Homo sapiens: one gene and its partners. The protein of the gene in region 1 purifies or fractionates together with the protein of each later gene. This does not show direct contact. Each region holds a gene or a part of one and is shown in the gene's direction. Other genes may lie near its edges. The genes, in order: DDX28, METAP2, RPUSD4 and FASTKD2.

The links.
Region 2: the proteins of DDX28 (region 1) and METAP2 purify together in Homo sapiens (affinity purification with mass spectrometry; 2 studies listed by BioGRID and IntAct, with this or other methods). This does not show direct contact.
Region 3: the proteins of DDX28 (region 1) and RPUSD4 purify together in Homo sapiens (affinity purification with mass spectrometry; 2 studies listed by BioGRID and IntAct, with this or other methods). This does not show direct contact.
Region 4: the proteins of DDX28 (region 1) and FASTKD2 purify together in Homo sapiens (affinity purification with mass spectrometry; 2 studies listed by BioGRID and IntAct, with this or other methods). This does not show direct contact.

What each region holds. Positions count from the first base shown.
Region 1 is NC_000016.10:68,019,948-68,028,050, reverse strand, and holds DDX28 (probable ATP-dependent RNA helicase DDX28), read left to right. Parts: upstream 1-4,818; 5' UTR 4,819-4,848; coding exon 4,849-6,471; 3' UTR 6,472-7,135; downstream 7,136-8,103. UniProt on the Homo sapiens protein: Plays an essential role in facilitating the proper assembly of the mitochondrial large ribosomal subunit and its helicase activity is essential for this function. May be involved in RNA processing or transport. Has RNA and Mg(2+)-dependent ATPase activity.
Region 2 is NC_000012.12:95,476,679-95,484,189, forward strand, and holds part of METAP2 (methionine aminopeptidase 2), read left to right. Parts: intron 1-6,536; coding exon 6,537-6,602; intron 6,603-7,511. UniProt on the Homo sapiens protein: Cotranslationally removes the N-terminal methionine from nascent proteins. The N-terminal methionine is often cleaved when the second residue in the primary sequence is small and uncharged (Met-Ala-, Cys, Gly, Pro, Ser, Thr, or Val).
Region 3 is NC_000011.10:126,201,475-126,208,985, reverse strand, and holds the end of RPUSD4 (pseudouridylate synthase RPUSD4, mitochondrial), read left to right. Parts: intron 1-3,204; coding exon 3,205-3,298; intron 3,299-3,373; coding exon 3,374-3,518; intron 3,519-4,657; coding exon 4,658-4,755; intron 4,756-5,328; coding exon 5,329-5,568; 3' UTR 5,569-6,890; downstream 6,891-7,511. UniProt on the Homo sapiens protein: Catalyzes uridine to pseudouridine isomerization (pseudouridylation) of different mitochondrial RNA substrates. Acts on position 1397 in 16S mitochondrial ribosomal RNA (16S mt-rRNA).
Region 4 is NC_000002.12:206,789,246-206,796,756, forward strand, and holds the end of FASTKD2 (FAST kinase domain-containing protein 2, mitochondrial), read left to right. Parts: intron 1-1,326; coding exon 1,327-1,441; intron 1,442-2,437; coding exon 2,438-2,557; 3' UTR 2,558-6,944; downstream 6,945-7,511. UniProt on the Homo sapiens protein: Plays an important role in assembly of the mitochondrial large ribosomal subunit.

The sequences.
Region 1 (8,103 bases):
TAAAATTAAGTCTACACTCTTTAACACAGTAAATATAAGGTCTGGTCTCCACCTTCCATAGAAGCCTCTTTCATCACCTGCCTCCTGCCCTCAGAACTCCCCCATGCTAAGCTTCAGCTATTCTTAAATATTTCTAGTTCCCCAGCCTGGCCTGCTCTCTCTCAGTATGGGATCTCTGAACAAGCTGTCCCTGCCCAGGGGCCACGTCCCTATTCTTCCACCTGGCTGACTCCCTGTAGACTTTTAGAACCTCATCACCTCCTCCTGGAAGCCTTCTCTGACCAACATCTCCCAAAACAGGGTAAAGGCATCTCTGAGCTCATTCCTGTCCTGGCATGGAGCTATCCTGGCAACTATTAATAGAAGAGCAACTATCTGTCAATATGCCTTCTTCACTGTAAGGTGAAAATAGGCACTGTGGCTTGTTCATCACCAGATCCTCATCAGAGAGCATACAATCTGGCATATGGTAGATGCTTAGTGTTTGCTGTAAAAAGAAGTTAATGGCAGCCGGGTGAGGTGGCTCACGCCTGTAATCCCAGCACTTTGGGAGGCCAAGGCAGGCGGATTACCTAAAGTCGGGAGTTTGAGACCAGACCAGCCTGACCAACATGGAGAAACCACGTCTCTACTAAAAATACAAAATTAGCCGGGTGTGGTGGCGCATGCCTGTAATCCCAGCTACTTGGGAGGCTGAGGCAAGAGAATCACTTGAACCCGGGAGGCGGAGGTCACAGTAAGCTGAGATCATGCCACTGCACTCTAGCCTGGGCAACAAGAGCAAAACTCCATCTCCAAAAAAAAAAAAAAACAAGAAGTTAATGGACCAAGTGCAACAAGAGCTATGATCCACTCCATGCTTCAGTCACAGAAGAACTCTATCCCAGCCAAAGTGCATTTAAAGTGCTTTGTTATCACTCAAGTTTGGTTTTAGAGGAGACGAATGACTACTCCAATCTCTGGCTTACCCAGTAAAGGACTACAAGCCCTTTGGCCAACTTGCATGGAGCCATCACTTGAGTGAACAAGATTCACATAAGAAAGCAACAGAAGAGGTTGAGCCCAATTCTGGATACTGATTAGGAAATAATCTGCAGGCAACAAGGATTCATGAATGGCTTTTGAGTCAAAGGGTAACATGGCCATAGCTGTGCTTTTTTTTTTTTTTTTTTTTTCAGATAGACTCTTGCTCTATCACCCAGTCTGGAATGCAATGGCACAATCTCAGGTCACTGCAACCTCCGCCTCCCGGGTTCAAGCAATTCTTCCACTTCAGCCTCCCGAGTAGCTGGGATTACAGGTGCCTGCCACCATGCTCAGCTAATTTTTGTATTTTTGTAAAGAAAGGGTTTCACCACGTTTGCCAGACTGGTCTTGAACTCCTGACCTCGTGATCTGCCCGCCTTGGCCTCTCAAAGTGCTGGGATTACAGGCGTGAGCCACCACACCAGGCCTAGCTGTGCTTTAATAACATCACTCGGGAAACAGAAGGTAGACCAGAGGGTAAAAAACAAAGAGCAGGTAGGGAGCTGGATGAGAAGGAAGGTCAAAGGGTCCAGGAATACTATAGTGATAATGACTGAAAATATGATTACCTGCGCACAGCCCTGCTACAGGTGGGAAAATGGAGGAACAATAAAGTAATACCAATAGCACTTTTTATTGCTGTAATGCTTTGCAATTCCCAAAGTGCTTCATTTATAACTGTGATTCTCAAGCCTAGTTACATCTGGAGAGGTTTCTAAAAATACCAATTTCTCGGCTGGGCACAATGGCTCACATCTGTAATCCCAGCACTTCGGGAGGCCAAGGCAGGCAGATCAACTGAGGTCAGGAGTTCGAGATCAGCCTGGTCAAAATGGCAAAACCTCATCTCTACTAAAAATACAGAAATTAGCCGGGTTTGGTAGCACGTGCCTGTAATCCCACCTACTGGGGTGGCTGAGGCAGAAGAATCACTTGAACCTGGGAGGCAGAGGTTACAGTGAGTCGAGATGGCACCACTGAAGTCTAGCCTGGGTGACAGAGCAAGACCTTGTCTAGGCCTTAACCCAAATCAATTAAATCAGAATGTAAACTCCACAAGGGCAGGGATTTTGGCTGTTTTCCTCACTACCAATGCCTGGCACATGCGTGGTGCTCAGGAAGTATTTGTTGAATGAATGATTGAATGAATGAATGAATATACCATTATTAACTGAGATCCAAGGAACACACCAAGCTCCTGATCTCAGGAGCTTAGATTTTTTTTCACAATAAGGATACCTTTCCTATTTCTAAAGCACTACTTATAAAAATATCTCAGAAAACATTTAGAAGTTAATCAATGTCCTCTGTGAGTGAGGGGGAAAAAAGGTAGGCAGTGTCTAGTGATGTGACAAGAAGAAATTAGTGGCCACGGACACAGACAGGCTTAGGCAAGCTCTAACTCCTGTGAAATTTTGAGGTAATCATATTGTAAGGACTCAAGCATAATGAGAAAACAACTATATATTAACCAGCTACCCTACCCTGGATATTTGAACAAAACCCAAAAACCCAAATGCATATACATACCTATTATTTTGTTCTGATACTTCAGGATTACTTTGATATATGTGTTCTGGCTTTGTACAGAGTAATTCTTTGTTTGATATCTGAAAAACAGTGGCACATGGAAATGGATGAAACCTGTTGGGACAAACATCCAAGGGACCTTTTTTTTTTTTTTTTGAGACAGAGTCTCGCCCTGTCGCCCAGGCTGGAGTGCAATGGTGCGATCTCGGCTCACTGCAACAACCTCCGCCTCCCGGGTTCAAACGATTATCCTGCCTCAGCCTCCCGAGTAGCTGGGATTACAGGCATGAGCCTGGCCCCAAGGAACTATTTGGATAAGGAGAAGCCCTGAGTTTGGAAAGAATCATAAAAGTAGCATAGAATTGGGCCGGGCACAGCGGCTCACACCTGTAATCTCAGCACTTTGGGAGACCAAGGTGGGCAAATCATGAGGTCAGGAGTTTGAGACCAGCCTGCCCAACGTAGTGAAACCCTGTCTCTATTAAAAATACAAAAATTAGCTGGGAGTGGTAGCGCACACCTCTAATCCCAGCTACTCAGATGGCTGATGCAGGAGAATCCCTTGAACCCAGAAGGCAGAGACTGCAGTGAGCTGACATCGCACCACTGTACTCCAGCCTGGGCAACACAGTGAGACTGTCTATAAAAAAAAAAAAAAAAAAAGTATCCAGCCATTGTCAAATATGGTGGGAGGGAAAGGGCAAAATCACCCTTGTTTTAGAACCACTACCCTATCCAATGACTGTTCATTCACCCATCACTACTCAAAACTTTCTCTTCCTACTTCCAGATATTTTCTTGTGGAGAAAAAAAGCCTCTCTTCCTCTGATTTATCTGGTAACTCTCCAGAAAGTCTAATTGTGTAGCACAAGGGTAGAGTGTACTTAAAATTGTGAAAGTTTTTCCTCATACTATTCCAAAAAAAGCAAAGTTTTTATCTTTTCATTGGTATTTGATGAAACTAAAACGTTTTCTCCAGATGTTACGAACCTCCCAGAGAGTTAATCCATAAATATTTACCTTATCTCCCACCCCAGGCACTGCAAATTACAGAAAAGATCTGACACCCATTTTCCAGATCTGTTCAAGAAGTATCTGTTGGGCATGGTGGCTCACGCTTATAATCCCATCACTTTGGGAGGCCGAGGTGGGAAGATCGCTTGAGGCCAGGAGTTCGAGACCAGCCAGGCCTACATAGTGAAACCCTGTCTCTACTAAAAACAGAAAAAATTAGCCGGGCGTGGGTGGTGTACGGCTGTAGTCTCAGCTACTTGGGAGGCAGAGGCAGGAGAATCACCTGAACCCAGGAGGTGGAGGTTGCAGTGAGCCGAGATTGCGCCACTGCACTCCAGCCTGGGTGACAGAACGAGACTGTGTCTCAGAAAAAAAAAAAAAAAAAGTGACTCGTATAGTTCTTGTTTTTACAACCCGAATATCTGAATTCAGGTAAAATATTCTGCCTGACCAGGGCTACATGATAAGCCACGTACTTGATCACTTTGTAGGGTCGCAGCACCCTTCTTACTACTATTTTAGGTAATTCAGGTTTCTGACGGGGAAGCCAGTGGAGCTGAGCGGGCTGCAAGAGGGGTGGGTTCTGGATGAGAAGTTGGGACGCGTGACGAGGGAGTAGAGAGTGAACCTTGGCTTAAAAGGAAGGAAAATAACTGTGAAGAAAAGATGACCCAACTTGAAATAAAACCTGAAGACCTTATCTCCCACTTGAGAGAGAGAAGAAGCTGAAAGCCATCAGCTTGCACTCTGGGCTCACAGACAGAGAGGGTGAGGGGTTGAGCCCAGATCTATGACTTCAGACCCCTGTCTCGGCCCCTAGGCCTGATCATTCATTCAAACTCTCAATAAACACGGATTACCAGACCCTGCGCAGGGAACACATCTGGGAAAACAGCTGCAACCTCGGATACCAGCACGGGACAAGCTATCTCAGGGCAATGAGGAACAACTAAAGAGAATCCCAGGAACCAGGTAACCAATCGCCAGAAGCCCTCCGCCCTCATGGTCCATTGGGTCAAGGCCCCACTGCCGCCTCGTATCGCCAGCCTCCAGTCCTGCCTCCACGACGCGCCCTTCCCCAAGGCTGGCCGGGTCTGGATGTCGCCATCCCCTATTCGGAGCTACAGACCTCGCAGCTGAACTCTTAAAAAGAACCTCGCTTCTTCCTCACGGTGCTCCAGCTCCACACACCGTACTGAGCCTCGCCAGCCACCGTACGCGAGGTCGCGGCGCGTCCGTGACGTCACTGATGTGCGCTTCTCCCGCACTAAGGGAAACATGGCTCTAACGCGGCCGGTGCGGCTCTTTTCCCTCGTGACTCGGTTGCTCCTGGCGCCGCGACGGGGCCTCACGGTCCGCAGTCCCGACGAACCCCTGCCGGTGGTGCGCATCCCAGTGGCTCTACAGCGGCAGTTGGAACAGCGGCAGAGCAGGCGGCGGAACCTCCCGAGGCCGGTGCTGGTTCGACCCGGACCGCTGCTGGTTTCGGCGCGGCGGCCGGAGTTGAACCAGCCGGCGCGCCTCACACTGGGCCGTTGGGAGCGCGCGCCGCTAGCCTCTCAAGGCTGGAAGAGTCGACGCGCGCGTCGGGACCACTTCTCCATCGAGCGCGCGCAACAGGAGGCGCCAGCGGTGCGAAAGCTCTCGTCTAAGGGCAGCTTTGCTGACCTGGGCCTGGAGCCCCGTGTGCTGCACGCACTACAGGAGGCTGCGCCTGAAGTCGTTCAGCCCACAACCGTGCAGTCTAGCACCATCCCCTCACTACTTCGCGGCCGCCATGTCGTTTGCGCCGCAGAAACCGGCAGTGGCAAGACTCTCAGCTACCTCCTGCCGCTGCTTCAACGGCTCTTGGGCCAGCCAAGCCTGGACTCCCTTCCTATCCCCGCGCCCCGAGGCCTGGTCCTTGTTCCTTCCCGAGAATTGGCCCAACAGGTGCGGGCTGTGGCCCAACCCTTGGGCCGCTCCTTGGGCCTGCTGGTGCGGGACCTGGAGGGAGGCCACGGCATGCGTAGGATCAGGCTGCAGCTGTCCAGACAGCCTTCAGCAGATGTGCTTGTGGCCACTCCAGGGGCTCTGTGGAAGGCCCTGAAAAGTCGACTGATCAGTCTGGAGCAACTCTCCTTCTTGGTGTTGGATGAGGCAGACACACTGCTGGATGAAAGCTTCCTGGAACTGGTGGACTACATCTTAGAGAAGAGCCACATAGCAGAAGGCCCAGCTGACTTGGAAGACCCCTTCAATCCCAAAGCTCAGTTAGTGCTGGTAGGAGCCACATTTCCCGAAGGTGTAGGCCAGTTGCTGAATAAAGTCGCCAGCCCAGATGCTGTCACCACCATCACCAGCTCCAAGCTCCACTGTATCATGCCTCATGTGAAACAGACATTTCTGAGACTGAAGGGAGCAGATAAGGTGGCCGAGCTGGTGCACATCCTCAAGCATCGTGACAGAGCAGAAAGGACTGGTCCCTCAGGAACTGTTCTGGTGTTCTGTAATAGCTCCAGCACTGTGAACTGGCTGGGATATATTCTGGATGACCACAAAATCCAACACCTAAGGTTGCAGGGGCAAATGCCAGCCTTGATGAGGGTAGGAATCTTCCAGTCCTTCCAGAAGAGCTCCCGAGACATACTTCTCTGCACAGACATAGCCTCTCGGGGCCTGGACAGCACTGGTGTGGAGCTGGTTGTCAATTATGATTTCCCCCCAACGCTGCAAGATTACATCCACAGAGCAGGGAGAGTGGGCCGTGTGGGGAGCGAGGTGCCAGGCACCGTCATCAGTTTTGTGACCCATCCCTGGGATGTGAGCCTGGTTCAGAAGATTGAGCTGGCGGCTCGCCGAAGGAGAAGTCTTCCAGGACTAGCATCCTCGGTGAAAGAGCCTTTGCCCCAAGCAACCTGATTTTGACAAATCTGATTAAAATGTGATGCTAGAACAGGGATCTTTCCCAGTATCTTGAGTGGGTGACCACACTTGTCAGTGGGAGGCTCTGGGCTGCCCTGTCGGCTCCTTGAGGGCGGGATGAACTGCTTTGTGACTTGGAAAGGTACGCTGCTGGCCAGCATTGGAGAAGAAGCTGCTGAGCATGGCTTTCTGTAGTCTTTAGCAAGACACAAGTGGATTTTGACTTTGTATCATGTCATGATTTCTAACAATAAATGATGTTTTTATGTGCCTCCCCTAAGAATAATTAGCACCGGGGCGGAATTCAGTAGTTTCTGAGGATTCATACACCAAACCTCCACATCTAGGACAAAGGCTCTTTCAGTTGATGTTTTCATTTATAAACATTTAGTTTGTATTTCCTGCCCCCAAAAAGGTATCCATTAAGCCCCCAGGGAAAGGAAAGGAAAGGAAATGTGACTAGCAGTAGACAGAGTTACTCTCTAACAATGCCCAAGACAAACGGGCGTCTTGGCGAAATCTCTGGAAGGTACTGGCAGAAAAGTAAAGGGTAGACGAACACAGAAGTTTTGCTTGTACATTTTCAGGTTCTGCCTTCTATCCCAACTCGGTAGCCGAGAAAGAGGAGAGATGATTAAACGGTTTTACAAAACTGGAAAAATAACCATATAGCATTTTCTTTATATATATATATACGTATATATATATATATATATATATATATACATACGTATATATATATATACACATACATATATATACGTATATATATATATGTATATATATATATACGTGTATATATATATACGTGTATATATATATGTGTATATATATATATACACAAAAAAAAATTACAAAAATCAACCCGGCGTGGTGGCACGCGCCTGTAGTCCCAGCTACTCGGGAGGCTGAGGCAGGAGAATCACTTGAACCTGGGAGGCGGAGGTTGCAGTGAGCCAAGATCATACCACTACACTCCAGCCTAGGGGACAGAGCAAGACTCCATCTCAAAAAAAAAAAAAAAAAAAAGCCGGGTGTGGTGGCTCACGCCTGTAATGCCAGCACTTTGGGAGGCTGAGGCAGGAGGATCACCTGAGGTCAGGAGTTTAAGACCAGCCTGGTAAACATGCGAAACCCCATCTCTATTAAAAATACAAAAAAATTAGCTGAATGTGGTGGTGCACGCCTGTAATCCCAAATACTTGGGAGGCTGAGGCACAAGAATGGCTTGAATTCTGGAGGCGAAGGTTTCAGTGAGCCAAAATTGCACTTCTGCACTCCAGCCTGGGTGACAGAGCTGATATTCTGTCTCAAAAAAAATAACAGAATCCTGAGCCCCACTCCAGATGGGATTAAGCTCTCTAAAGTTTGACCTGAGAATACTCTTTGTAAACTCCCCCAGGTGATACTTGGGCCCTCCCAAATTGATAAACCATTTGTCTATGCTGTACTGCCTTTCCCAGAGTCCCAGCAAATTCCTGTAAGGCTTTGTACCCCCACAAGACAAGAGGGATGCTTCCGGACAAGTACTCTCTCCAGAGCCTTGGAGAATCTGAGTGATCTCATGCTAGCCCTCCTGCCAGAACAGACTTCCCAGGAACCATCCCCTTGATATTTTACCTCCTACCA
Region 2 (7,511 bases), on another chromosome or scaffold:
ATGTGTTAATTAGCTGTTCAGATAGGACAGATCTCAGAGTTTAAAAATATACTTGGTAGAAGGCAAAGTAGTGAGTATTAATAAGATTGAGGGGTTGTTTATTTAACTAATACTTACTGAAGAACTACTATGTACTAGATACTTTCCTAGGTTATTTTCACATACATTCACATTTTAACCTCACAAAACCAAGCAAAGTAACCTACTTGTGCTTAGATATCCATTTTGTTTTTTGGTAATGGACTGTCTTTTCCTATTTATTTTGACTTTACCCAGCCCTTCATGGCTTTACCCAGCCATCTCATTTTACAGATAGGGAAGTGGTAGTTACATGATTTACCCAAAGTGACATAGCTAATATGTGTAGAATAGAGCCAGAATTTCAAACCTAGTGCCTGACTGCACGTTTGTTCCTTTTACTCTCTATTTTTTTTTTTCTTTTTGAGACCGAGTCTCGCTCTGTCGCACAGGCTGGAGTGCAGTGGCGTGATCTCGGATCACTGCGACCTCCCGAGCTCAAGCAATTCTCCTGCCTCAGCCTCCCGAGTAGCTGGGATTACAGGCGCCTGCCACCATGCCCAACTAATTTTTTTGTATCTTTAGTAGAAATGGGGTTTTGCCAGGTTGGTCTTGAACTCCTGACCTCAAGTAATCTGCCCACCTCAGCCTCCCAAGGTGCTGGGATTACAGGTTTGAGCTACTGTGTCCGGCCTGTTCCTTTTACTCTCTATACCAAAATTAACTCTTTTCATTCTGAAAGAATCGTATAGGAGTGCACTAAGTTTTATTATAAATTCCTTGACCCTAGCTCCTTCTGGGTGTTTGGGTACAATAAGATTTTTTTAAAGACAGCAACTGCTAATTGATGTTATCAGTAAAACAGTGAAGGAAGAGACAGGTAAGAAAACTTAACTTTTTTCCAGCCTCTTTTGGCGGAGGAAAAATGGGGCTTTCCCATTCTTTTTATTTGTAGCTGCCTACTACTGAGAACATCTGCTCCCCCTCAAGCACCACCAGCCTGGGGTTAGGTCTTTAACCATTAGTTGGGGCTGTAATTATTGTGTTAGGGTAATGTAGAGTAGTTGTTTTCCTTTAGAGTGGTATGTTCTCTGCCTTCAAGAAGCTTATAGTGAACATTTGGTGGAAAAAAGTGCCAAGATTCAAGGGAATTACTAGCTTTTCCTCTTCCTTAAACCTCTGTTCTACATTGGCTTATGCTTTAGATTATGAACTTATTTTGAGCTCTTCACAAGAAAATGTTTTGTAAATTCAAGGCAATATAATAGATTGCTATAGACCCACTGTGTATATGGTATCATAATGCTTCCTGGGCCTGTCAGGCTAGTTAAAAAATATTGGCTGGGTGTGGTGGCTTATGCCTGTAATCCAGACAAGCCTGGGCAACATAGTGAGACCCTATGTCTATACCCGTCCACCTCCCCCCACCCCCCAAAAAAAATCACAGTGCTAATCTTGAAGTGTTATCTTGTTCTGTTACATCTCTACAAAGTTGCCCATCAGGTTGGAAATCTTCAATGTATTAAAGAAGATTTTAGGAATATTTGTAGTTATTTCAGTAATCAGAGTCAGTCAATACTACTTACCTGTTGTTAGGTCTTTGAGGGAATGGAAAGCTAGTGTTTCAAGATCTTTCTCCTAATGGAAAACTAGACCAGGTGTGTTAGCTCTCGCCTGTAATCCCAGCATTTTGGGAGGCTGAGGTGGGTGGATCACCTGAGGTCAGGAGTTCAAAACCAGCCTTACCAACATGGTGAAACCCCATCTCTACTAAAAATACAAAAAATTAGCCAGGTGTGGTGGTGGGTGCCTGTAATCCCAGCTACTCGGGAGGCTGAGGCAGGAAAATTGCTTGAACCCAGGAGGTGGAGGTTGCTGTCAGTGGAGGTTGCGCCATTGCACTTTAGCCTGGGCAACAAAAGTGAAACTCTGTCTCAAAAAATAAGAAAAAATAAAGAAAACTAAGGATGTGGTAGACAGACAAAACCTAGAAGTGAAAAGGTATTTGGGTACCTGTAATAAAATTTATTGAAATTTGGTGGTATAAGTGTGGGCTGAATGCCGAAGGAAGGCTCATTGGAAGGAATAGAACTTGAGTAAAACCAAACAAAGGAACTATTTTGGGTTGGGGTAATGCTGAGAAAACATTTGAAGCATTGTGGTAATACAAGCTTGCCATATGAGGTGATAGATTGAGGGAGCCTTAGAGGATTTTTAAGAAATGTTATGAGCCAAGCACAGTGGCTGGTGCCTGTAATCCCAGCTACTTGGGAGGCTGGGATGGGAGGATCTTTGAGTCCAGGGGGCTTCAGTATGCTACGAAAACACCTGTGACTGGCCACTGCACTCCAACCTGGGTAACATAGTAAGACCCTGTCTCTTAACAAAAAAGGAATGTTATGAAATAATAATTTAGGCTTTACCTGTATACAGGGTTGTTTAGAGGAGAGGAAGTGTGTAGGAAAGGCAAGGAGGAGATCATTTTGGAGGCCTCTTAGAAATAGCCCAGGCATATGGTAATGAAGATGTAAACTGATAGTCATAAATAGGCATGGAGAGGAAGGATCCAGTGAACAGTAGTGTGGAAGCAGAATTCAAAAGACTTGGAGACTTGCATTCTGGGAGCAGGAGTAAGGCATTAGTGGACTCTGGGAGTTTGCACTTGGGTGACAGAATGTTGGTGCTGTTGACTGAAATAGTGAAGTTGGGAAAGAGCCAGTTAGACATTGGGGGAGAGGTTTGCAGGCAAAGAAGAGGGTACTAAGTTTAATTTTAGATGTGCTGAATTGGAAACTGTGGTATTGGTATAAAAAGTTGATCCTGTGGTCATCTGACAGTGTGCTGGAGGTAATTCATTCAATACATTTTGAGTCAGGCTCATTAACATATAATTTCCCTAAAATAATAGTCACCACTCTTTTTTTTTTTTTTTGAGACGGAGTCTCACTCTTGTCCAGGCTGCAGTGCAGTGGCACGATCTCAGCTCACTGCAACCTCTGCCTTCCGGGTTCCAGCGATTCTCCTGCCTCAGCCTCCTGAGTGGCTGGGATTACAGGTGCCCGCCACCACTCCCAGCTAATTTTTGTATTTTTAGTAGAGACAGGGTTTCACCATGTTGGCCAGGCTGGTCTCGAACTCCTGGCCTCAAGTGATCCGCCCGCCTCAGCCTCCCAAAGTGCTGGGATTACAGGCGTGAGCCACCATACCTGGCCCCAATAGTCATCCTTTTTAAGTGTATAGTTTGGTGAGTTTTGACAAAGTATGCAATTGTGTAACTACTACCACGACGGAAGATACAGACTATTTCCATTTAACATTTCCATCTCCAGAAAAAAGTTGTGTCTCTTGTAGTTGGTTCTCTTGCACTATACCTAACCCTTAGCAATCACTGATACGTTTTCTGACCCTAGTTTTGGCCTTTCCTGGAGTATCCTATAAATGGAATTATTCGGTATGTAGTTTTTTGTGTTTGGCTTGTTTTACTTAGCATAATACTTTTGACAGTCATCGAGTTGTGCATTTATCAATAGCACATTCCTTTTTATTGCAAGTAGTATTCCTAATATGTTTTACCCTTTTACATTGAACAATATTTGGGGTGTTTACAGTTTTGGTCTGTTGTGAACGAAGTTACTATGAACATTTGCATATGGGTCTATGTGTAGATATGTTTTCATTTCTCTTGAGTAAATAGGACTGGGTTGCCTGTCATATGGTAAGTATGTGTTTAAACTCCTAAGAAGCTGTCTGGTTTCCAAAGTGGCTATGCTGTTTTGCATTCCTCTTAGCAATGGTTGAGAGTTTCAGGTTGTTCGTATCCTTGTAAGGACTTGGTATTTGTTTTAAAATTTTAGTCTTTGATAATGGGTATGTAGTGCTTTGTCATTGTGGTTTTAATATGCACTTCCCTAATGATATTGAGCATCTTTTCATGTTTTTATTTGCTTTTTCCTTTATCTTTGGTAAAGTGTTTGTTCACATTTTTTGTCCATGTTTTATTGGGTTATTTGTCATCCTATTGAATTGTAATAGTTCATTGTATATTCTGGTTGCAAGTTCTTTATCAGATAATATGTTTTACAGATATTTCTATGGGATGGCTATTCACCTGGTTAATGGTATTGCTTATAGGACAGTTTTAATTTTGATAAAGTCCAATCTATCTGTTTTTTAAATTTATGGGTAGTGCTTTTTGTGTCCTGTCTAAAAAGTTAAGTCATTGCTGTCTCTAAGGTCACAAAGATGTTCTGTGTTCTCTTCAAGAAGTTTTATATATTTTTAGCTGTTATGTTTAGGTCTATGGTTCATTTAGAATTAATGTTTCTAGATAGTGCAAGGCAGAGCTTAAAAGCTTGAGACTCTTTTTTTTAAAATATGATTTCCAGTTGTCATTCAACAGATATCAACTGATTTGGGCATAGTAGTAACACAAATAAACATAAGCAGCCTCTGCTGGCCAGGCCTGGTGGCTCATGCCTATAATCCCAGCACTTTGGGAGGCTGAGATGCGATTCGAGACCAGTCTGGGCAACTTAGACCTTGTCTCTGCAAAAGATTAAAAAACATTAGCCAGGTATAGTGGTGCGTGCCTGTAGTCTCAGCTATTCAGGAAGCTGAGGTGGGAGGATTTCCTGAGTCTGGGAGATTGAGGCTGCAGTGAGCTGTGATCCTGCCACTGCACTCCAGCTTGGGCAACAGAGTGAGACCCTGTCACAGAAAAACCAAAAAAACCAACCATCTCTGCCTATGAAGAATATGCTGGGATACTGTGAAGAAAAGACATGTAAAAGCACAAATTTCAACATGGTATAATGGTTGGAACTATAAACATATATAGATTAATACTCAGATCCTGGCTCTGCTGCCATCCTGGCACAAAGTTCTATAAATGGTGGCTGTTTTTCTGTACTGAATACAGACATTGGACATTGAATAAGGTAATTAGCCTCAAAAGGATGAAAGTATCAAAGAAGGACCTTTTTGTTCCATTTTAAAGATGAAGAAACCAGGGTAGAGGGAGGCTAAATAACTTGCCCAAGGTCACCCAGATGGAAAGATTTTTAGTATATGTTTAAAATTGGTGATGTATCTTCAAGTATTTGTTTTAGGTTGTGCTACATACACTAGGTATAGTGCTACATACACTAGTCACAACCTAAAACAAATACTTCAAGATTCATAACCAGTTTTAGTCTGGAAAAAACTATTGTTTCTCCAGAACAGAAACTATCTTATTTTTCTGTCCCTATTGCCTGGCACTTAAGAGCCCAACAAACATTTAATGGGGTGAAGAAGGTTACTGTTAACGTTACAGTGCACGATATGTGAATTAGATTATAATTTTTCGTGTGCCTTTTGTTAGGCTTTTGAATCTAAAAATCCATAATGAATAAGTCAGCAATATTTGTGTTTTGGGTTTGTTGTTGTTAGGATACAAGATCTCCCTCCCGTCACCCAGGCTGACGTGCTGTGGCTCGATCTCAGCTCACTGCAGCCTTGACTTCCCTGGCTCAGGTGATCCTCCCACATCTCAGCTTTCCAAGTAACTGGGACTATGGGCGCATACCACCACACCTGGATAATTTTTTGTACTTTTAGTAGAGACAGGGTTTCACCATGTCCTCCAGACTGGTCTCAAACTCCTGGGCTCAAGTGATCCACCTGCCTCAGCCTCCCAAAGTGCTAGGATTACAGGTGTGAACCACTTTACCTAGCCTAATATTTGTACTTCTACTGTTCTCTTCTGCCTGCTAGGTTTTTGATAATTTCATAAGATTGAACATAAGAAATGGTGATTTTGAGGCTGGGTACAGTGGCTCACGCCTATAATCCCAGGACTTGGGAGGCCAAGGCTGGCAAATCACTTGATGTCAGGAGTTCGAGACCAGCCTGGTCAACATGGCGAAACTCCATCTCTACTAAAAAAAAAAAAAAAAAAAATTAGATGGGCATGGTGGCATGCACCTGTAATCCCAGATACTTGGGAGGTGGAGGCTGAGACATGAGAATCACTCAAACCTGGGAGGCGGAGGTTGCAGTGAGCTGAGATTGCGCCATTGCACTCCAGCCTGGGCAACAGAGCTAGACCCTGTTTCAAAAAAAGAAAGAAAAGAAGTGGCAATTTTGACCAAAAATGGTCAAGTATTGGCATTTTCATATGGTTCAACCCACGTAAGTCCTAGATCACGTTACCTCCCACTTTGCTAAACTGCTGCTTCCTGTTTCTAAATTTTTTAGTGTTGGAGTCTCACTATGTTGCCCAAGCTGGATTCCAACTCCTTGGCTCAAGTGATCCTCCCACCTCAGCTTCCCTAGTAGCTGGGACTATAGGCATGTGCCACCACACCTGGTAGCTGCTTCCTATTTCTTATTTCAGTGAAAGAATAAATGTAAACAAGATAAAATAAACTAACGTTTGTTCATTTATTGAATAGAGCAAATACTTGTCTCCTTGTACTTGCTTTGTCCCTCTGCTTATGAGGTTTAAATGAACATGTACTTGAAATGTCTTTTCTTAGATGGAGATGGCGATGGAGATGGAGCAACTGGAAAGAAGAAGAAAAAGAAGAAGAAGAAGAGAGGACGTTAGTGTCTTAAGTTAATGTTAATTGATATATTAGAAGTGTTTATTCTGTCGGGTGTGGTGGCTCACACCTGTGATCCCAGCTACTCCGGAGGCTGAGGCAGGAGAATTGCTGGAACCCAAGAGACGGAGATTGCAGTAAGCTGAGATTGTGCCACTGCACTGCAGCCTGGGCAACAGAGTGAGACTCTGTCTCAAAAAAAAAAAAAAAAAAAAAAAGAAGTGGTTATTCACTGACAGGTTTGAAGAGTAGGTTTGAAGTTGCTTAAGGTCCTGATATATGTTAGGGAAATAAACTTAGGCTTAATAGAAGCAGAATTTAGTGAAACTAATAATTATTTATTAGTTTAATAACTTTGGTTTAACAATCCTTTATTTTCTTTAGCTGTTAGCTAAGGGATGTCGATATGAATTGGTTGCATTTTACTGCAAGTTAGGGATGAGTTTCTAAAAATTTTATGATTTAAAACTTGCATAATTTAAAGAATAATTCTGTCAAGAATGGCCGAAGTGGTGCCATGGTGGTGGTAGGGTAAGCGTTGTTTGTAATTTACCTTCCAGCTTTTAAATTATGAGATTCTTGATGAGTATTTAATGAGGAATCCCGTTATTTAAGATGTGTGCATATGGTGAGACTTTATTATTAATAATAACTTTTATATTGTACGATCAGATTTGTATAAAATATCCTGCTTGTTTTGAGTTTCTGTAAGTGCCACAACCAAACATCATCAGGTGCCCGAAAATATATTAAGGAGGCTGAAGGGAGATTTCGTAGTGTTGAGGAAGAAAGGTTGGGTTGAGAATCACAACATGTAAGTTTTAATCTTGGATGCCATTTGGGCTGTTGTAGACCACTGAATGTCTGGTTATGCCTTCCTTTAAAATTTTTCAGGCTAAAATTTTATGA
Region 3 (7,511 bases), on another chromosome or scaffold:
ATACAAGTAATATATGATTTTATTCCCATGCTAAAAATAGTCAAACAACAAAGATCATGTGAAAAACTCCTGGAGAATCCACCCATTCTGCCATTCTAGTGTTTTCTCTTGAGGTAACAACCCATGTAATCAGTTTGGTTTTTTTTCCTCTGGTTCTTACTCAACGCATTTACATATATGTCTAGTGTATACAGTATACGCGTGTGCGGCGTACGCAGTATACGCGTGTCCGGCATACGCAGAATATGCGTGTCTGGTGTACGCAGTATATGCGTGTCTGGTGTATGCAGTATATGCATGTGTACATATGTATGTACACATATATATCTATATATATATCACATTGTACAATTTACATTATACTTTTTTCCTCTGCTCACCTCTATGTCTTGGGGATCATCCTGTGTTAGCACATAGAGGTTTACCTCAGTGTTTTTCATAGAAAAAAGATGCGTGAGCAAAAAAGAAACCCTCTATTCCCCATCTGTGCAGTTGCCTTCCCCAGCGTCAATCGCTGTGACTGGTGTCTTCTGTAAACTTCCAGAGTTATCGAGCATATATAAGCATATTACTGTATGCTAGTGTATTTCACACAGAGTTTTGTACCCTACAGTTTTCACTTGGATCATATATCTTAGAGCATTTTGTGTCATACGTTTAGAGCTGTCTCCTTTTTAATTGCTCTGTGAAATACCGCTGTATGGATGGATATTTAGGTAATTTCTCATTTTTTAGAGCCTATTGCAAAGAATATGTGAATGTATTTTTAAGATAAATTTCTAAAAATTGAATCGCTGGGCTGAATGGTTTGTATATTTAAATTTTAATAGTACTCACATTGCTCTCCACAAAGGTTTTTTATCAGTTTACATTCCCACCAGCAGTGGTGAGTACCCACCTCCCCTTATCAGCCAAAGCATTTTTAAAGGGTTTGCCACTGTGATAAGTTAAAAAAAAAAAAGATATTTTCTATTTCCTTGTATAACAGTGATATTGGCTATCAATTTACATGTTTTTTACATGTTTATTGGCTATTTGAGTTTCCCTTTTGGGAACAGACTGATTATTTCTTTTGCCTATTTTTCTACAGGGTTGTTTATTATTATTATTTTTTTTTATTTAAGACCGTGCCTGGCCTTTTTTTTTTGAGATGGAGTCTTGCTGTGTCACCCAGGCTGGAGGGCAGTGGCACAATCTTGGCTCACTGCAACCTCCTCCCTGGTTCAAGTGGTTCTCATGTTTCAGCTAGCTGGAATTACAGGCACATGCCACCATGCCCAGCTAATTTTTGTATTTTTAGTAGAGATGGGGTTTCAGCCTGTTGGCCAGGCTGGTCTTGAACCCCTGACCTAAAGTGATCTGTCCATCAAAGTGCTAGGATTACAGCGCTTACAGCTCACAGGCGTGAGCCACTGTGTCTGGCCCAGGTTGTTTATTCTTTTCTATTTGATTTGTAAGTATTCATTTTATATTTTGAATGTTAGTCCTTTTTAGATTACAGATTTTGCAGATACTTTGTGAATCTGAGGAGCCCTTTAAAAATATGTATGATTGAGACTTACCCACAGAAGTTCTCATTCGTAAGTGTGGTGGTTGTGGGGATTGGCATCTGTATTTTAAAATTTGATATACAATCAAATTTAAGAACTATGATAAGATTATGGAGAATGGAGGAATTTAGGACAGTAGCTAAGACCTCAAAAAGATGTGTGTTCAACTCTCAACTGTGTCATTTAACAGCTGTGGGGCCTTGGGCAGGTTATTAAATGTCCATAAGCTTTGTTTTCTTCATCTGAAAAATGGAAACAGTAGGATTTATGAGATAGTTAAATAAGATTGATTCTTGTGAAATGTTTAACACAGTACCTAGTTCATAGGAAAAGTTAAAAAATAAAAAATAGAGACTTATTTTTCTATTCAAGCAATCAAAATATTAAGACTATAAAATACATGTTATGTTATTTGTGAAAAATGTCCATTAAGGTTCAAAATTGGTAACCATTCTCGGTATCAGGTTCATGGAGGAATTGAAATCAATCAGTTGGGTCTTGCTGATGGAACATTCTTGAGTTGTAGTGTCATATCATTAGGAAGGACATTCTTGTCACAGAAGATCTACAAAATCTGTAAAATACGATAAAATGTACCAGATAGTAGCTGAAACTGAAGTGGAGTGTCTGCGTTGTGAAATAGTGTGTGTGAGTAGGATTTTGACCCCGTGGTTAGTGATTATACAACCGACCACCAGGTACCCAGATGGACTTTTCCATCATTGACCTGAAAGAGGCATAAATTTACAGACAGATTAAACAGTCTTCTACCTGTCTGTGAGGTCATGAGGTCATGGGAGGGAGAACACCAACAGAAGTGATTTGGAATGAGTTATTGAGTTGTGGTTGTGGTACCTATGACTTCTTTCTTTCTTTTTTTAGACGGAGTCTTGCTGTGTCTCCCAGGCTGGAGTGCAGTGGCATAATCTTGGCCCACTGCAACCTCCACCTCCTGGATTCAAGCGATTCTCATGCCTCAGCCTCCCAAGTAGCTGGAATTACAGGCACGCGCCACCACGCCTGGCTGATTTTTTTTTTGTATTTTTAGTAGAGATGGGGTTTCACCATGTTGGCCAGGCTGGTCTTGAACTCCTGACCTGAAGTGATCCACCCGCCTTGGCCTCCCAAAGTATTGGGATTACATGTGTGAGCCACCACGCCTGTCCCCTGTGACTTCTTCGGGTACAGTTCCCTCCTGTTTTACCTATGTGGCAAATGAGCCAGGAACGGTTCTCTGAATGTTTTATTAGGTTCATTCATCCAATTATTCATTTGTTCATTTACCATGCAGTCAGAATCTACAATCTTTTATTATTTGAAAAAAAATACAAAACTATATTACCATAATTTTATTTTAACTGTACATATCCATTTTTAAAGACTGGAAAGACCATGTTATTAATGTAATTTTTTTCTTTTTTTACCCCAAATATTCTACAATTAGCATGTATGACTTTAGTAGTAAAAAAGATAAGCTTGTGAAATCTATCAGCTCTCAGGCTAAGCATTACACCAAGAGAATCTTGCACGATCCTTCAATCATAAGAAATCACATGTTAGTGCAGAAGGTCCAGCGTGAAATCCTCTAAGTGGCCAAATCTAGGAGTTCTTCTCTGGCTTGGTTGGCTAAAGCAGTGATCTGTGTCACCCCCAGGGCCATCACTGTGCATGTCCCCATGCCCTCAGCAGGAGTCGTGGACATCCCCATTGTGGAGAAGGAGGCGCAAGGCCAGCAGCAACACCACAAGGTGAGCGAGCAGCCTCCCTGAGGCATGGGTTGCTGCTCTTCCTTGGGAATCATATCTTGATTTCTTTGGCTTCAGATGACATTGTCCCCGAGCTACCGCATGGACGATGGGAAAATGGTGAAAGTGCGGCGCAGCCGGAATGCGCAAGTTGCTGTAACTCAGTACCAGGTGCTCAGCAGCACTCTCTCCTCCGCCCTCGTGGAGCTCCAGCCCATCACTGGTGAGAGTGTCACTTTTCCGCAGTGGGATCACAAAACCCTGTGCCACCAGGTTTTGTCCAGGGCCTCGTTCTGAGCAGCTAGTAGTGTGGCTGACTTGTGTGAGAATGTGCTTCTGGTGCTGATCTGAGGCCGGGGACTCCCAGAGAGATGGTTGTGGCTAGCAGAAGAATACAAACAGGTTGAATGCCTCTATTTAAAACTGTGTAGAGTGGTTCCTCAAAACGATTAAACAGAATTATTGTAAGATCCAGCAGTTCCACTTCTGGGTATATACCCCAAAAATCAAATATTTGCACACATATTCATAGCAGCGTTATTCACAGCAACAAAATGTGAAGATAATCCCAGTGACCATTGGGGGATGAATGGAGAAACAAAATGTAGCATACACATAAAATAGAATGTTATTTTCAGCTTTAAAAGAATTAAAGGAAGGGAAATTCTGACACATGCTACAATATGGATGCACCTTGAAAACATTATGCTAAGTAAAATAAGCCAGGCACAAAAGGGCAAATATTATATGATTCCACTCATGTGAGGTACCTAGAAGAGTCAGATGTATAGAGACAGAAAGTAGATGGTGGTTGCCAAAATCTTAGGGTAGGGTAAAGGAGGGGAGATAAATAGGGAATTGTTGTTTAATGGGTCCAGAGTTTCAGTTTGGGAAGCTGAGAAAGTTCTAGAGATGGATGGTGGTGGTGGTTGCAAAAACAGTGTGAATACACCTAATGTCACTGACTTGGCATTTAGTATAATGCCAGTGGTTAAACCAGGAAATTTTATGTATATGTTACTACAATTCAAATAATGTGCAAATCAATACTACTTATGTAGTAAAATTACTAAAAAGTTGGGGTAATGGTAGACGGCAAGTTCATGATAATGGTTATCTATGGTGGAAAGAGGGAATTGTGGTGGGGAGAGGTACTTAGAGTATTTACGGCGTTTACTTCCTAAACTGGCTGGTGCTACATAACTTATAGTTTGCTATATTATTCGTTATACTTTATTATAGTTGGGACTTGGCCAGTTTACTGCACTTTGATGTAACACGATTTGAAGCAGATGCCAATACTGGTATTGTTTCTGTAGCTCCTCACGAGTTTTCTCTCTTTCTCTCTCTCTCTCTTTTAAGGAATAAAACATCAGCTTCGAGTTCACTTGTCTTTTGGATTGGATTGTCCAATCCTTGGTGATCACAAGTACTCAGACTGGAATAGGTTGGCCCCCCAGGTAATACTAATTTGACCCAATGTGCAGCAGATACGGGAGAGAACTTAGGCGTTCCTTTTCTTAAAACTCTGAAATGAGTTACAACAAAGCCTACTGATTGTCTTCAGACATGATACCAAGCTCATTATCTTGATTTTAGAGAAATTTAGGAGCAGTTGGTTACTGTCCTTGTGGAACTGCAGGATCTGTTAGTGAAAAGCTTACTGTTACATTTGTTTATTCAGATTTTGTTGGGAGGCTGTGGACAAGGGGAGGGGTGTTTCTGAAGGCTGGGAGCAGCTTTTCATGGTGCTACTAAAAAACCGCAGGGAAAGCCTTTTCATCCTTATACCACAGCCCATTCTCTTGTTAGGCCAAAAAGCACTGGCCAAAAAGAATGTCTTGGTGTGGTCATTTTTCCCTTACCTGAGTTCTGAGCCGTTCTTAGACATGCCACTGAAGCAGACTCTCCATTACTGTGTCTTCCAGGGGGTTAGTTTTGGTTCCCTGTAAGTAGAAGTGCCCTGACCTTGCATGTTCGTCAAGGGTGGACTGTTGGCCTTGCTCTCAAGGGTCTGTCCTTTCTTTGTATAGAAGCTGTCTGTGGGCACCCTGAAGAAGCTGGGGCTAGAACAGTCGAAGGCCCGCTACATCCCCCTTCACCTGCACGCCCGGCAGCTGATCCTGCCTGCCCTGGGGTCCGGGAAGGAGGAACTCAACTTGGTCTGCAAACTTCCTCGCTTCTTTGTGCATTCCCTGCACCGCCTGCGTTTAGAGATGCCAAATGAGGATCAAAATGAGAACAATGAAGCCAAGTGTCTGGGAGCACAGTGAAGACCATGGGAGCACCCTGGCACCTGGGAGCACAGTGAAGACCCTGAGAGCATCCTGGCACCTGGGAGCGCAGGTTGGCCCCTGAACTGTTCTTTGTTTACAGGACTCTGCTAACTTCTCACTTGGAACAGACTGCGTAAGAGCCAGGTGGGATAAGGTAAAGCAACTCAGCTGCTACAGGGCTTTTAATGGAGAACAAAGTCTATTTACTGATAGTTTGGCTGCACTGTGGAAAAGCCTGCTGGAAGTCTCCCTGCCGTGGGCTCTCATTGCCAATATGGAACAGAGCCCAGGGCCAGGCAGACTGGGGCAGTGACTGGAAAAGGAAAACTAAAGGTCAGAATCCGGGATCAGGAACTGTTTTTATCCAGCAGTGAAGCTCTTGAGCTCTTAGGAAGGTTCCCGTGGTTGGAAAGAACATAATGGTTAACAAATATCACAGCATCCAGGGATTGCCCAGCTATAGTGTGGGTGCCCTACTGAACTCTGATTAGGGAACCTGTATAAGGGTATTGAGTGTGAGGTTGAGGTGGGACATTTGCTGAGCAAGGAGAACCGATGTGAATGGCAGGCAGATAACATGCACACATGAAGCTGGCTGGGTGTAAGGCAGTAGCGGGGAGCGGCATGCTGTCTAACAGCTGTTAGCTCCAGCTGGTTGTTGCCATGTGGGAATGGATTTTCTCATTTCTTCAGAGAAGCTGGAAACCTAGATATTTATGTGAAACCTCCCAGTGTATTGCCAACTAAATCAAATTTTTAAAGATGCTTAGGCACCTAAGCAAATAATACTTAGAGGTTGAATTTGGTCTACAGGCTAGCAGTTTGCAGTCTATGTTTAATGAATGGTATAGAAGTTTGGGGAAAGGTGCCATCTTGAAAATTCTGGATCAGTGGTTGGCATTTTCGCTGCGTGTAGTATGTATCCTTTCTAGGCTTGGAGATGGCTTTGGTTGGTCCGTGAATGTAGTTATGAGAGTGCTGCCATTAAAAAATCAAAAATCTCTGTTGTGGAAGCGTATCTTCTGTTCTTAGGTCTCAGGAAGGAGAGGGCTATACTGAACACCATTAGGGATAGATGGAAATGACCTTGGCCTCCCTGCTCAGCTGGTCCATCTAGTTTCCACCTTGTTTCTTGCAAACAAATACACCTCACACTACTTTTTCTTTCTGACAGAGTTGGAGTGACAGCACAGTTAGGGGGGTACACCCCGGGACAGTCTTTATATGTTCCCTCTGTATAGATGATGCCACTTTCTAGCCCTTTCCCTGTCTCCATGGTACCCATTACTGTGCATAATAAATTTAACTTTGAAAGCACAGACGAGATGACTATATTTGTTTATATAAGACCTAAATATTTTTGCTGTTATTTCTGTTTCTAGTAAACCATGCTAGTCAAGAAAAAGGAACAAGAATGTGACACTTAGGAAATAGTGATAATTGACATTAATTCAGGGAAACAGATGAACAGGAATACCCACAAGAATGGAGAAGAGGCTGGGCGCGGTGGCTCACACCTATAATCCCAGCACTCTGAGAGGCCGAAAAGGCCGAGGCGGGCGGATCACCTCAGCCCAGGAATTCGAGACCAGCCTGGGCAACGTGGTGAAACCCTGTTGCTACAAAAAATACAAAAATTAGCTGGGTGTGTTGGCACACGCACACCTGTGGTCCCAGCTACTCAGGAGGCTGAGCTAGGAGGATCACCTGAGCCCAGGAGGTTGAGACTGTAGTGAGCCATGATTGTGCCACTGCACTCCAGCCTCGTGACAGAGTGAGACCCTGTCTCACAAAAAGGAGAACAATCTTAGAGGAACAGATGATGGAAATAAAAGAACTGGAAAATGTAGAAAAGTAGGAGCTAGTCAGGATACATTTTGGAGAAGTAACAGATGATTTATATTCTCATATATAAATATGGTCTCCTCCAAGATGTAAAT
Region 4 (7,511 bases), on another chromosome or scaffold:
GACTCGAGGCTTCTACAAAAATCAAATACCCAATAAATATTTTGCTCTACCACCAAGACTTTTCCAGAGGTAGAGAAACCGTAGTTTTTTAATTAAACTGTATTTGTATGGGTTAGAGCACATTGAAGCTAATCCTAAGTTGTTTCTTTGGCTCACACATTACAAATAGAGTGTCTCTGGGGAGAAATATGATGCTATACCATGAGAGAACATCCTGCCTCTTCAGTAGATGCATAAGATCATGCCATCATTGCACACACCCGTGGGTCAGTTACCCTTTATGTAAAAGCTCTGCTACATGGATCCTGACCCCAAGGAACTTGTATCTTCTGTTAACTCCACTGGACACACACACACACATAAATATGATAGAAACATACAAAAAAATCTGTAGGGATCCAAGCTCTTATCTGCCCATCCCTCTTCATTCACACACAGTTCTGTGACTTTCACCTCTTTCTGAATGCATCTAGCTTATTTCTTGGCCATCTTTTCAACCGCTGTCTTTCCTATTAGTGCTACCCATCTCCCCTCAGAAGAGGCTTTCTCTCTGACCTCATTCCAAGATCAGTTTTCTTTTTCGGGTACTCCGCTATTCTGGCATAATAAAATAACAGTTGTTCTCAGCATAAAGTCATGAGAAGTGAAGAATGTGAGCATTCCTTTAAAAACATAAAATTTGTCTTATAACAGCCAGAGTATAGGTGAAGGCAGTAAGGATATAAATGTCTTTTTTTTTTCTTTTTTTCTCCCAGTAAACTTAGTATTTCCAAAGTGCCAGGAACAATGAAAAAACAAATTACACCTTCCACATTTTCGTTATATTTACAGATTTTATTTTAACAGTCTTGCCTTTCTCTTGGTGTTTTCTTTCTTGTATTTAAACTCCTATTTCTGTTTTTTAAATGCTGCTTTCTCTGGGAGATGATATGTGTAAGAAGAGCATTTACTATTTGGTATTATTTACACCGTTACTACTACTGGTAGAATAAATAATTATACTCAGATCAGAAATCAGCACTACACAGAAAACCCTTAAAATTGGTGCTTTCATGTCTGAAAATTTTCCTCTTCAAAAATGTAGCCATCCTTAAAGGGAACTGAGAGGTAACTGTGTATAATGTTGTATATTTTTGATTTATAAAGTAGCCTTGTATAGTGGAATATCTGCAGAGGCCAAGTAAAAGAAGTGAAGGACTAAGACAGGAATATCAAGGATTGTGGTCGGTGGAGAGCTCAACTTGGAAATCTCCAGAGAACAAGAATGCAGCAAGACTAAATAGTAATATCAATAACTGTTCTTGTTTTGTTTATTTTTGTTTTCAGAGTAGCTGTGCTATGTGTTTCCAGATCTGCTTATTGTTTGGGTTCAAGCCACCCCAGAGGATTCCTTGCTATGAAAATGCGGCATTTGAATGCAATGGGTTTTCATGTGATCTTGGTGAGAAAAAAATGCAAATGAAATATTCTTTAATTACTGATGTACATTCTAACAGCTGCCAGGAATCTTGTGGTTGAGACTGGTTACTAGGACTAGAGGAATTGTCAGCATTATTGGAATGAGTGCTTTAGTTACTGTTTTCTTTGAAAAAGAACATTGCTAGTACACGATTTGGGTTCTGCTCAGCTGATTACTGTCATTACTAGAGCTTTTACAAATGTTGTTCTGGTCAGCTTTAATCCTTTTTTGCTAAGAAGAAGAATGCAAATAATATATTTTCATATTTAAGATACACAAAACCATATTTAATTTCCAGGTTATCTTGAACAAGGGAAGGAAAGATGTTAAAGCTTTGTTTTCATGGCCTGTGTGAAGCTGTTACAGGATGTTTGTTGCCAGAAAAGGCTGGATGGTTTTAAGAAGATGGGTCTTTCTCTTCCCTCTTATGCTTCAATTTTATTTTGTACCCCACAGCTTCTCTTGAACAGCCTCTTCTGATGTTTCTAGGTAGTAGGAACCTTACAAATACATTTATATATATGTTGCTGTTGGAATCTATCTAAATGCCACTCATTTGGTCCTGCGCATAATGTAAGATGTAAACATTCCAAGTCTTCTATTATTATACTTTAGTATTGGAAATGGATTACGTGTGGACTATTGAGATTAAGATGACTCCTTTCTCTTAGTGGGCTACTATTTAAGACTTTGTTTTTTATATTGCTGATTATATATATTCTAAGGAAGATTTTCTCAAGAAAGCAGTTTTTGCACCATTTAGAGGACCTTTAAAATTTGTATAATTTTCACAGTTAAAGCTTTCTTAAACCCTAGCATGTAGTCTTATTATGCCTTTAAAATATGAGTAGTTATAAGGTCACATTTGCTTTCAAAAAGCTATTGTCCTCATGTTACTTTACTATGTTTGGATCTCTAAACTAGCTCTTTTGTTAGTATCGTCTCACAAACTGATTATTTTCCTCTTTCTTTGGTAAGGTCAATAACTGGGAGATGGACAAACTAGAGATGGAAGATGCAGTCACATTTTTGAAGACTAAAATCTATTCAGTAGAAGCTCTTCCTGTTGCTGCTGTAAATGTGCAAAGCACACAATAAAGTGAAAATCAACCTTTTCATATTAGGAGACATGCATTTGTAAAAATTAATAAAGATGACAAGTCAGTTGTCAATGGAATTGAGCTATCTGCTAAGACAAAAAATGTTACCTCAGTTCACTATTAAAATTAATTTTAGGAGTGGAAGAAATGTTGTTACTGCCATTTAAAAATATGCTGAGAAAATTCCAGAAGGGTTATTTTTCCAACCACACCTATTCCCTCTAGTGCCCAGATATTTGATTTGTGAGCTGTACGTTTCACCTTTTCATCTTTGATCTACTAAAAACTGGTTTCTTAGTTGTGAGGTGTCACAGGCAGGTTGATGTGGGTAGTAGTCCTTGTCTTTGGAATCTGAATATTTATACTCCTGCTCTAAGCTGTTCTAAGACTTGGGGTTATGCCTTTAAATCATTTTCAAGCATTGGCCAAATAATAATTGGACAAAGTTCTAAAGTTGTCAAGTGTGTAAGAATTAGTGAGGTAGCTGTTGAAAATGAGTGAGGATGGTATTTGTATTTGTAATAAGCACTGCAGGTAGAGATATTTCATGGGTTATAATAAGAGAAACACAGATGAGATGTAGATGGTAAGGAGTCTTACTGTTGTTGGGGTCCTTCCTTTCTCTTTCTTTTTTCCCCCTTACCCCTCCCACAATTTCATGAAGTCTTTTAAATTAAATATATAGCTGAATTGTGTTGTGAATCAGACCTGAGGACTATTTTTTCGATTATGTGTGTTCATTCTTTGTTCAAATATTTGTCCAAATTCAACTATTTTGTTCAATATGCCTGTCTACCTAGTATTTGGCTCGCTGGGGATATAGTGATGAATAGGCATGGTCTCTTGTGGAACTTACAGCATGGGTTCCATGCAAGTTGGTGTTATTCTGCCCCCAAGCACACAGACATGCAATTACTAGACATCTTAGTATGTGCCGGGCACTGCTAAGTATTCATTTGTGTGCTGCCTTTTCATGATCTGAACCCTTTGAGGTGTAGCTGCTATTATGATTCTCTCTGTGTCTTCACTTCCTCATCTCTAAAATCAGGATAGGTATTTGCCCAAGGCTACACAGAGTAGGGGAGGGCTGGAGTTTGAATGTGAGCTAACATAGGCTTATAAGAAAATACAAAAACTGGGCTGGGCACGGTGGCTCGTGCTTGTCATCCCAGCACTTGGGAGGCCGAGGTGGGCTGATCATGAGGTCAGGAGGTCAAGACAATCCTGGCCAACACGGTGAAACCCCATCTCTACTAAAATACAAAAAATTAGCCGGGCATGGTGGTGCATGCCTATAATCCCAGCTACTGGGGAGGCTGAGGCAGGGGAATCGCTTGAACCCGGGAGGTGGAGATTGCAGTGAGCCAAGATGGTCCTGCTGCACTCCAGCCTGACCACAGAGCGAGACTCTGTCTCAAAAAAAAAAAAAAAAAAAAAAAAAAAAAAATACAAAAACTATAGCAATATGACAACAGCTGCCAGGTTGTATCAATTTATCCAGCTTGCATTTAGAAAAGGTTAGAGCTGAAAGGAAATTTAGTGATTATTTAATTGTTACTTCCCTCATTTTATGGACGAGGAAGATAAGGCTCAAAGAATTTTCCTTTCCTGAAGTCTCAGCTATGCCATTGGTTCCACATCATTTCATCCTCACCTGCTCTTCAGCTTGTGTCCCAGGAGATCAGGCTTCTGGTTCCAGATTGGACAACCTCTAGTTTTGTATACTTGGCCAAGTGATTTAACCTTATAAGCTTCAGAACAAGATGCAGATATTCTGTTATTAAAGGAACTAAGGTTTTGTCTTTAAATGTTGAGTGTGCATCAGTTTTGAGTGTCTAATTATGACTCCTCTTCAAAGGATTTGACAAATTTGTGAATATTTATGACCACCTTTTAGGGTAGTAATTTTCAGTTTGTACTAGTTAACCTGGCAGATAAAAAGGCATCCCTCTTTTACTAGCATTCTAGTGTTAGCATTCTTCATTGCTTTGTGTCAATGAAAGAAAAATGGGCAAAGAGCTGATGAACATGAAAAAAGTTCAGTCTACTTGTAAAGACATGCACATTGAAACAGAAGAGATGGTTTTGCCTTTCAAATTAGCAGTTTTTTTTCTTTTAAGAATTACAGTGCTGATGAAGGTATAATGAGGCAAGCACTTGCATAAGCTGTTGGTAGACTGTAAATTAATACCTTTCTGGAATGTACTTTGTGGGGTTTTCTTCTCCCATAATTTAAAAAATAGCTTTATTATAGTATAATTGACATACAGTAAACTGCATATATTTAAAGTGTACCGTTAGGTCAGTTTTGACGTACATACACACACACACACATCTGTGAAACCACAATCAAGATAATGAATATATCTATCACCTCTAAAAGGTTCCTGTCTTTGCTTTTTTCTCTGTCCCCTAAACAACCACTGATCTATGGCACACATAGAAAAAAATTAGGAAATATATTAAATGCTCATTTTGTGTGAGATATCCAAATATTTTTTTCAGAATCCCTAATGAAAAGGTTGATCTTGCTCTAGATACAAGATATAAAATTGTATTCTTGAAATAGCTACATGCAATTCTTTTTTATTATTTTTTAATTTTAATTTTTAGATTTTTAAAGATGGGGCCCTGCTATGTTACCCAGGCTAGCTTCAAACTCCTGGGCTCAAGGGATCCTCCTGCCTCAGCTTCTCAAGTAGATAGGACTGATTATAGGTACAGGCTACTGTGCCCAGCTCAATTCTTGATTGAGACATTTACCAGCTCTCCGAATTCTCAGTAGTTACCACTGAATAGAAACTTTCTTTACACAAAGCTGATTAAACAGTTTAGAACTTTTAAAAAACATTCAAAAATTGAAAATTTCATATATACATAGCCTAACAACTCTTCTTGTCATTGACAAAATGTGATGGTATTTTTTTTGTGATAATACACATGGACCTCAAATGCAATTGAACTATTCATATCAAGTATTTCCAAATAACAATGACATTCCAATTTATAGAATGTCATGTGTTGTGAGGGTAGTCACCCTGCAACTGGCTTGGACATCTCTAAGCAAATAGAAGTTTCTGTAAGATAGAGATTTGGGGCATCTACTTGGAACTACCTATGAGGAGCTGGCATTCCTCAAATCCCAACTGACTGCACTTTTCCATGAAATTACCCAGCAGTTATGATGGTCAGTGGCTCACTCAGCAGCAAGCCACTTAGGTAGCTGGCGAGGGACGTGGCACAGCCTTGTCTTCACACAGCACATCACAGCCAGGCAGCAAAGGACAGATCTCTCTCATACTCTTCATTCACAGGGCCTGAGAGGTGGACCATCAGACTCCACCCTGTTTTGCGCTGACTTGTAGGGAGACCTAGGTGTGGAGCTTCCTGGCCAGGAGGGCAGTGGCTGCCCAGAAGGCAGGAGATGGCTATCTCTTTTTTTTTCCTGAGACGGAGTCGTGGTCTGTCGCCCAGGCTGGAGTGCTGTGGCGTGATCTCAGCTCACTGCAAGCTCCGCCTCCTGGGTTCAAGCCATTCTCCTGCCTCAGCCTCCCGAGTAGCTGGGACTACAGGTGCCCACCTCCATGCCCGGCTAATTTTTGTATTTTTAGCAGAAACAGGGTTTCACCATGTTAGCCAGGATGGTCTCGATCTCCTGACCTTGCGATCTGCCCGCCTTTGGCCTTCCAAAGTGCTGGGATTATAGGCGTGAGCCACCACCCCCGGTCCAAGATGGCTATCTCTTAACACACTTGTAACCCATTTGTGCACACAGGTGTGCCGTGACTCACTGGTGGATCCAAAAAAAGCTGAAGCCTACATTTCCCAGAGCCCCTTTCAGCTTGAATTCCAAATGTGACTTAGCTTCCTCTATGCAGATGTACCTACTTGAAACTGGGAAGGCCAAATGAGATAGAGGTAATGTTTCTGCCAACAAACAGCCACAGAGCATTTTATTTTTCTAGAAGAGCAATAACAGAGACCCCAGGGTGTGGTGTGGCAGGACGAGGAGCATCCATTTTGCTGGTGGGGATTGTGGCTAAAATAATGTGGCTCTGGAGCCAGCAATGGGCAGCATCTTCATGACTTTCCAGCTTCCAGGCTGTAAGCAGAGATAGCATCTCTTCTGGACAGCCAGTTATGTGATAGTGTTCTGAGAGTCATTCCTGGAAGTCAGACTAAAGGCTGCTCCTTCAGCCTTTCCATTCATCTTGTAAGCAGGAGGCTTCTGTGCATGGCCAGAAACTAACAAAAGCACATTGTGTCTAAACTAGGTTGCAGTGGTTTCTGTTATCAGCAAGTAAATCCTGATTGATAAAGATACTACAATATATGCACATATATATGTTATAGAATCAATAAAAATTGGATACTTTGCTTTAAAAGTTTGTGAATTTTGCTTTTAAAGAATTTCCCTCAGGGCCGGGCACAGTGGCTCACACCTGTAATCCCAGCACTTTGGGAAGCCAAGGCAGAAGGATCGTTTGAGCCCAGGAGTTTGAGACCAGCCTGGCAACATGGCAAAACCCCACCTGTACAAAAAATAGAAAAATTAACTGGGTGTGGTGGCATGCACCTGTGGTCCCAACTACTCAGAAAGCTGGGGTGGGAGGATCGCCTGAGCCTAGGAGGTCGAAGCTGCAGTGGGCCAAGATTGTGCCACCGCACTCCAACCTGGATATCAGAGTGAAACCATGTCTCAAAAAAGAAAAAAGAATTTAAAAAGAATTTCACTCAGGGTTACAGACACTTAATGTTATTAAGACCCACTAGGAACACCTGTGTATACTGCTGGCTGGTTTTACATGTCACCCCACCCTGAGCAGGTTTCTCTAGGCAGCAATAAAGCTTCTGAGGCAGAGGAAGGGAGAAACCAACACACCTGCCTTTATTTTCCATTTGTTCTCCTTGCATCCAGTTTTCACCACACTTCCCCATGCTTTCACTACAGT